Regions from separate parts of the Homo sapiens genome. Here region 1 is linked to region 2. The links come from fine-mapping of genetic effects on gene expression. A gene starts in region 2. The other region holds a variant in brackets. All regions are shown on one strand. Distances are from middle to middle.

Region 1 (2,915 bases), 150 kb before region 2:
ATGAATCACTTGAGGCCAGGGGTTTGAGACCACCCTGGCCAACATGGTGAAACTCTGTCTCTACTAAAAATACAAAAAATTAGCTGGGCGTGGTGGCAGGTGCCTGTAATCCCAGCTACTTGGGAGGCTGAAGCAGGAGAATCTCTGGAACCCGGGAGTTAGAGGTTGCAGTGAGCCGAGACTGTGCCACTGCACTGCAGCCTGGGCGACAGAGTGAGACTCTTTCAAAAAAACAAAAACAAAGAAACCCCAAAAAACCAAAATATCATAAAAAGAAAGTGCTTTGTAAATGGTTTAAAAAGTTAAATGCAGCTGGGAGTGGTGGCTCACACCTGTAATCCCAGCACTTTGGGAGGCTGAGGCAGGTGGATCATGAGGTCAGGGGTCAGGAGATCAAGACCATCCTGGCCAACATGGTGAAACCCCATCTCTACTAAAAATACAAAAATTGCCAGGCGTGGCGGCGTGTGCCTATAGTCCCAGCTACTCGGGAGGCTGAGGCAGGAAAATTGCTTGAACCCGGGAGGCGGAGGCTGCAGTGAGCCAAGATCGCGCCACTGTACTCCAGCCTGGGCGACAGAGCAAGACTCCATCTCAAAAAAAAAAAAAAGTTAAATGCTACTACAAATAACAAAGAAGGACACAAACTAGCAAGTGAAAGACTAGACAGCTTTCTTTGTAATGTTAACAATAGATTTCCATCAAATAAGCTGAAAGGAAAGCAGCCTATTTCCCACAAAACATAATTCCCCAAAGACGAGTCACTGAAAAGTCCCCGAAATATAATATAAACTCAAGATTCAGAAAATGAACCAGAATTCATTTGATCAGAATGGCTGTTAGAATTTTAATAACAGCCATTACCACAGAGTGGCATAAATATGTACATCATCTTAAGTGAAACAAGTCAAAAAAATTAAAATAAAAATATATAAAAGAAACAAGTCAGACACAGAAAAACAAATATTGCATGTCCTTACTCATAAGTGGAAGCTAAATAACGTGTACTCATGGACATAGAGACTGGAATGGACAATGGAGACTTGGAAGGGTGAGGGAGTGGAAGGGGAGAGGATGACGAGCTTATTTTTTTGTTTGTTTGTTTTTTGAGATGGAATCTCGCTCTGTCACCCAGGCTGGAGTTCAGTGGCATGATATGATTTTGGCTCAATGCAACCTCCACCTCCCAGGTTCAAGAGATTCTCCTGCCTCAGCCTCCTGAGTAGCTGGGATTACAGGCGCCCGCCACCACATCTGGCTGATTTTTGTATTTTTAGTAGAGATGGAGTTTCACAATGTTGCCCAGGCTGGTCTTGAACTCCTGATCTCAGGTGATCCACCCATCCTGGCATCCCAAAGTGCTGGGATTATAGGCGTGAGCCACTGCGCCCAGCCAAGAAGCTTAATTAATACTTAATGAGTACAATGTATGTTATTCAGGTGACGGATACCTTAAAAGCCCCGACT[T/G]GACCACTGCACAATCTGTGCCTGTAACAAAATTGCACTTGTACCCCATACATTTATCCACAAAAATGTACATCATACTTGACAGATTTAAAGGTGAAACAAATCTAACCCAAGAGAAGTGAAAACATAAGTCTACACAGAAACTTGTACATGAATATTCAAAGCAGCTTTATCCACAAAAGTCAAAATGTGGAAACGACCACATGCCCATCAAATGATGAAGTGATGAATAAAATCTGGTATATACACACAGTGGAATATCATTTGGCCATAAAAGGGAATAAGTTCAGATACATGTATCACAACAACTACAACACGGATGAACCCTGGCAAATTATTTTACGTGAAAGAAGCCAAACACAAAAGGCCATTGTCCTGGGTTGAACAGTATTCATGTCCGCCAGACCCTCAGAATGTGACCCTATTTGGAAAAAGGGTCCTTGCAGATGTAATCAGTTAAGATGAGATCATACTGGATTAGGGAGGGCCCTAATCTAATGAGTGATGTCCTTATAAGAAGGTCATATAAAGACACCCAGGGGAGACGGCCACGTGAAGATGCAGGCAGAGACTGGAGTGATGCATCTACAAGACAGGGAACGCCGAGGATTGATGGCCCTACAGAAACAAGGGGAGAGGCATGGAACAGATTCTCCCTCTGACCTGCTAAGAGGGAACAAACCCTGCTGACCCCTTGATTTCAGATTTCTCGCCTGCAGAATTGTGAGAAATAAATTTCTGTTGTTTTAAGCTACTCAGTTTGTGGTAATCTGTTACAGTAGCAATAGCAATCGAACACAGCCATATACTGTATGATTCCATTTATATGAAATATCTAGAATAGGCAAATCTATAGAGATGGAGGCAGTGGTTGACTAGGGCTGTGGGTGGGGGTAATAGGGAATGATTTGGATACAAGGTTTCTTTTGGGTATGATGAAAATGTTTTAAAATGAGACTGTAGTGATGGCGGTACAACTCTGAATATATTAATGCTACTGAATTGAACACTTTACAATGGTGAATTATATTGTATGTGAGTTACTTAATACAGCTGTTCAAAAAAATTAAATATGTCCAATCACTCCTCCAAAGGTAACAATTTTATGAAAAAAATACTGTATGTGATAATAGAGGCAAGTAGGAGTTCAATAAAAGGTAAAAACACATTTCTGCTTTAATATAGAATACAGGGCATTTTTTTCACATTTTGCAACTATTGATATTTTTGATTGGAAACAATTCTTTGAACTATCCCAGATATTTTACTATCTATGTGTGGCACATATTATTTTAATTCACACAAGCTCTAAAGAGTTCAGTGACTTAAAAGTCAATATTAGTAACTTTATGGTTGACAGTGACCTTTCACATGAAAATACATTTTGGAGATGACATGGATTTATCCATCACCGAGAGAAGACTTTCCTCTACTTTGTGGCAACTACT
Region 2 (2,915 bases):
TTTTTTCACATATATATATTTACAAGCTACTGCATTATTATATTGAATGAATTCCAACCGATTTCTTCTCAGAGGCTTACTAGAAAAATGCCAAATATTCAAATTATTTTGGGGCGTTAACCCATACTGTTGCATGGAACAGAACGGAATTAATAAGGATCCAACAGTTACCACTTTTCAAATGCAAATATGTTGCCATCTAGTAAATACAGCCCCTTTTTAAACATCCCTCAGTGTCTATACAGTTCAGGGCCCTACTTTTGTTTCTTTGAAAATCAAAATTCGCGCATTACATTGAGGCATTATCTCAACTCAGCAACAACAACTAAAATAGATACTAACTAGTCCAGCCTGAGTCTACATCGTACAAGACTTTTGCTTTATTTTTTCCTCCCATTTTAGACACACTGTCCCTAAACAATTCTGCCAAAGGAAACAAACCCTGCAGTGATGAAAAGAATCACGGACACTGGGTTCCACGAACAATAAGGTCGTGGGCTGGTCACCTGCCCGCCTCGGGCCTCAGTTTTCCTGTCTGTAAAATGTGGCCGCTGGACGAATCACCTATGGGGTCCCATCCGGCCCTCTCCCTCCCGGGTGCCTCGCAGCCCGCCCGGGCTCAGCTGACTGGTGCTGTGGCCAGGGTGCCCTGCCTGCCGCCGCTCTAGATGGAGGAGAAGGGGGGCGAGGGAGGAGAGGAACTTGGACTTGCAACAGCTTCAAACAGGAGCCGGCGACAAACTTGAAGCCGTCCTCCTAACAATAGGAAAGAGCACTCCCATTTTCCTGGCTCAAACTTGCGGGACCCCGCGAGGCTGGATCCTCCCAGCCGCCCTCTCGGAACCCGCTTTACCTTTCTCCCTGTTTGGTGTTAGAAGGAGGAGGGTGCAGGACCGTTTGATTCCCTTCCATCTCCACCACGCACTTGGTGTTCAGTTCCAGTTCTGAAAGCAGAGAGAAAGGGACGTTGCAAAGTCCAGCATCCGCGCCTCCAGCCCGCCCGCCCGCCAGCCGCGCCGAGCGGGGCTCCGTCCCTGGAGGCGGCCGAGCCTGGAGACGGCGCCCCGGGCACCACGGCCAGCGCGGACGCCGCCTCCGCCCCGGCCCCCCGGCCCCGGCCGCGCTCTCGCCGTCCCGGCCCCGCAGTTTCTAAAGTTGCCCCCGCCCTCAGCCCGAGCAGAAATAAAAAAGAGCGGAAAGCTCCTCACCTCGTCGGTTCATGGGCCGGACCCGGACGGCAACTTTTACCTTGGTATCCGACATGTTGGCTGCGCTCGCCCGGCCGCTCGCCGCGCCCGCTCGGCCTTAGGCGGCCCCTCACGCGCGGCGCCGCCGCCGCTGCAGCCGCGCGCCCCTCGAGCGCGGCCGCCGCCGCTCCGCCGTGAGCTCCGAGAGGCAGCGCCGAGGCGCGCGGGCCATCCCGGGGGAGCGCGACGCGGGGCACGGCCGCGGCCCGGGGAGGGGCGGGCGCGCGGGGCGGGGCGCGGCGGCGGCGGCGGCGGCGGCGGGCGGGGAGGAGGCCTCGCCGGCGGGCCCAGGCGCAGCTCTAGCCGCGCCGCCCCAGCCGAGACCGCAGCGCCGCGGCCCCTCGCGGCTGCCCGGGGCCCCGCGCCGCCATGTTCCGCGCCCGTCACCCGCCGGGGCTCGGGAGAGGCCGGACACGGCCACGCGCGGCGCCCCCTGGAGCGGCGGGACGGCAGTGAGAGGAGCGGCGAGCAGCGCGGCGCTTAGGGGAGGCTGGAGTCCGGGGCGGGACGCATTGTTTCCCCAGGGGACCTCCCAGGCCAAGCCTGCACCGGCGCCCGCGGGGCCCCCCCCCGGACACCGCCGTGAGCTCGAGCCGCCTTCTGGGGCCGCTGCCACCCGGAGCCCCGGGACGGCAGCAAGGACCACGGCTCGCCGCGCTGGGTGCGCAGGCCTTCCCCTCCGAGTCCCGGCACGCCGCCCCCTCTGTCCCACACGGAGCCTGCAGCGGTATTTTAAGATCTCTGTGGTGAACCGAGACTAGAAATGAATCTGTGAATCCACCACCGAAACAGTGTATGTTTGTAAATAGTGCTCTCCCTTCCTTTCCCGGCCTCTCTTGTCTCGGGAGGGATGTCAAGTGGGCTGGGAGGGCCATTAACTCTTACATAAGAATTTAATAGCAATGGATTCTGTCATCCTGCCAAATGCAGACCTCGCTGCCAGGGCGGAACTGGGCGAATCCGATTTATTCTGTTTGGTTCAACAAGTGCTTAAGGGGCGCTCACCGAGTGCCAGGCATTTTGAAGCGTACAGAAGTCAAAAATCCAGAGTTTAGATCCAGGAATCTTTCGATTTTGCTTAAATCTAGAAATCCACTTATTGGAAGATGCATTGAGGTTTTACTGTGTGCAGGGTGCTGTTGAGGACACACAGAAACATGAATAGCATGATGCAGAGGCACACGCTAAGGTGGAAGAGAGGGCGTGGAGACTTATTATGCTAGACAGTGTACGGCAGGTGCTAGGAGAGGGGTCCGTCCGCCTCCAACCGAGGTGATGCTACGCTTGACCCTCGAACAACACGGGTTTGAACTGCACGAGTCCACTTACACGTGGCTTTTTTTCAACCAAAATCTGATTGAAAATACAGTATTCGTGCTCTGGCACAGTGCCTTACGCCTGTAATCCCAACACTTTGGGAGGCCGAGGCGGGAGGATCACTTGAGGCCAGGAGTTCGAGACCAGCCTGGGCAATGTAAAGAAACCCCATCTTGCCAAACATAAAAATTTAAAAAATAGCCGGGCATGGTGGCAGGTGCCTGTAGTCTTAGTTACTGGAGAGGCTGAGGTGGGAGGATCACTTGAGCCTGGAAGGTTGAGGCTGCAGTGAGCCATGTTCGCACCACTGCACTCCAGCCTAGGCAACAAAGCAAGACCCTGTCTCAAAAA

What was found. PIP is the estimated chance that this variant, and not a neighbour inherited with it, causes the effect.
Region 1: its variant is the best candidate, but not a certain one, in a credible set for the expression of KIF13A in testis (GTEx, PIP 0.74).

The regions. Positions count from the first base shown.
Region 1 is chr6:17,837,725-17,840,639 of GRCh38, forward strand. All of the region lies in intron 9 of KIF13A (kinesin family member 13A), which reads right to left. Among named protein-coding and RNA genes, the nearest start is that of NUP153-AS1, 130 kb to the left of the region's middle. The variant T/G (reference allele first, on the strand shown) is at 1,468.
Region 2 is chr6:17,986,201-17,989,115 of GRCh38, forward strand. It overlaps KIF13A (kinesin family member 13A), which reads right to left and starts at 1,435. Exons shown (of 39, transcript NM_022113.6): 1 at 1,209-1,435; 2 at 854-944. The coding sequence starts at 1,263. RefSeq lists silencers at 1,021-1,140, 1,511-2,010.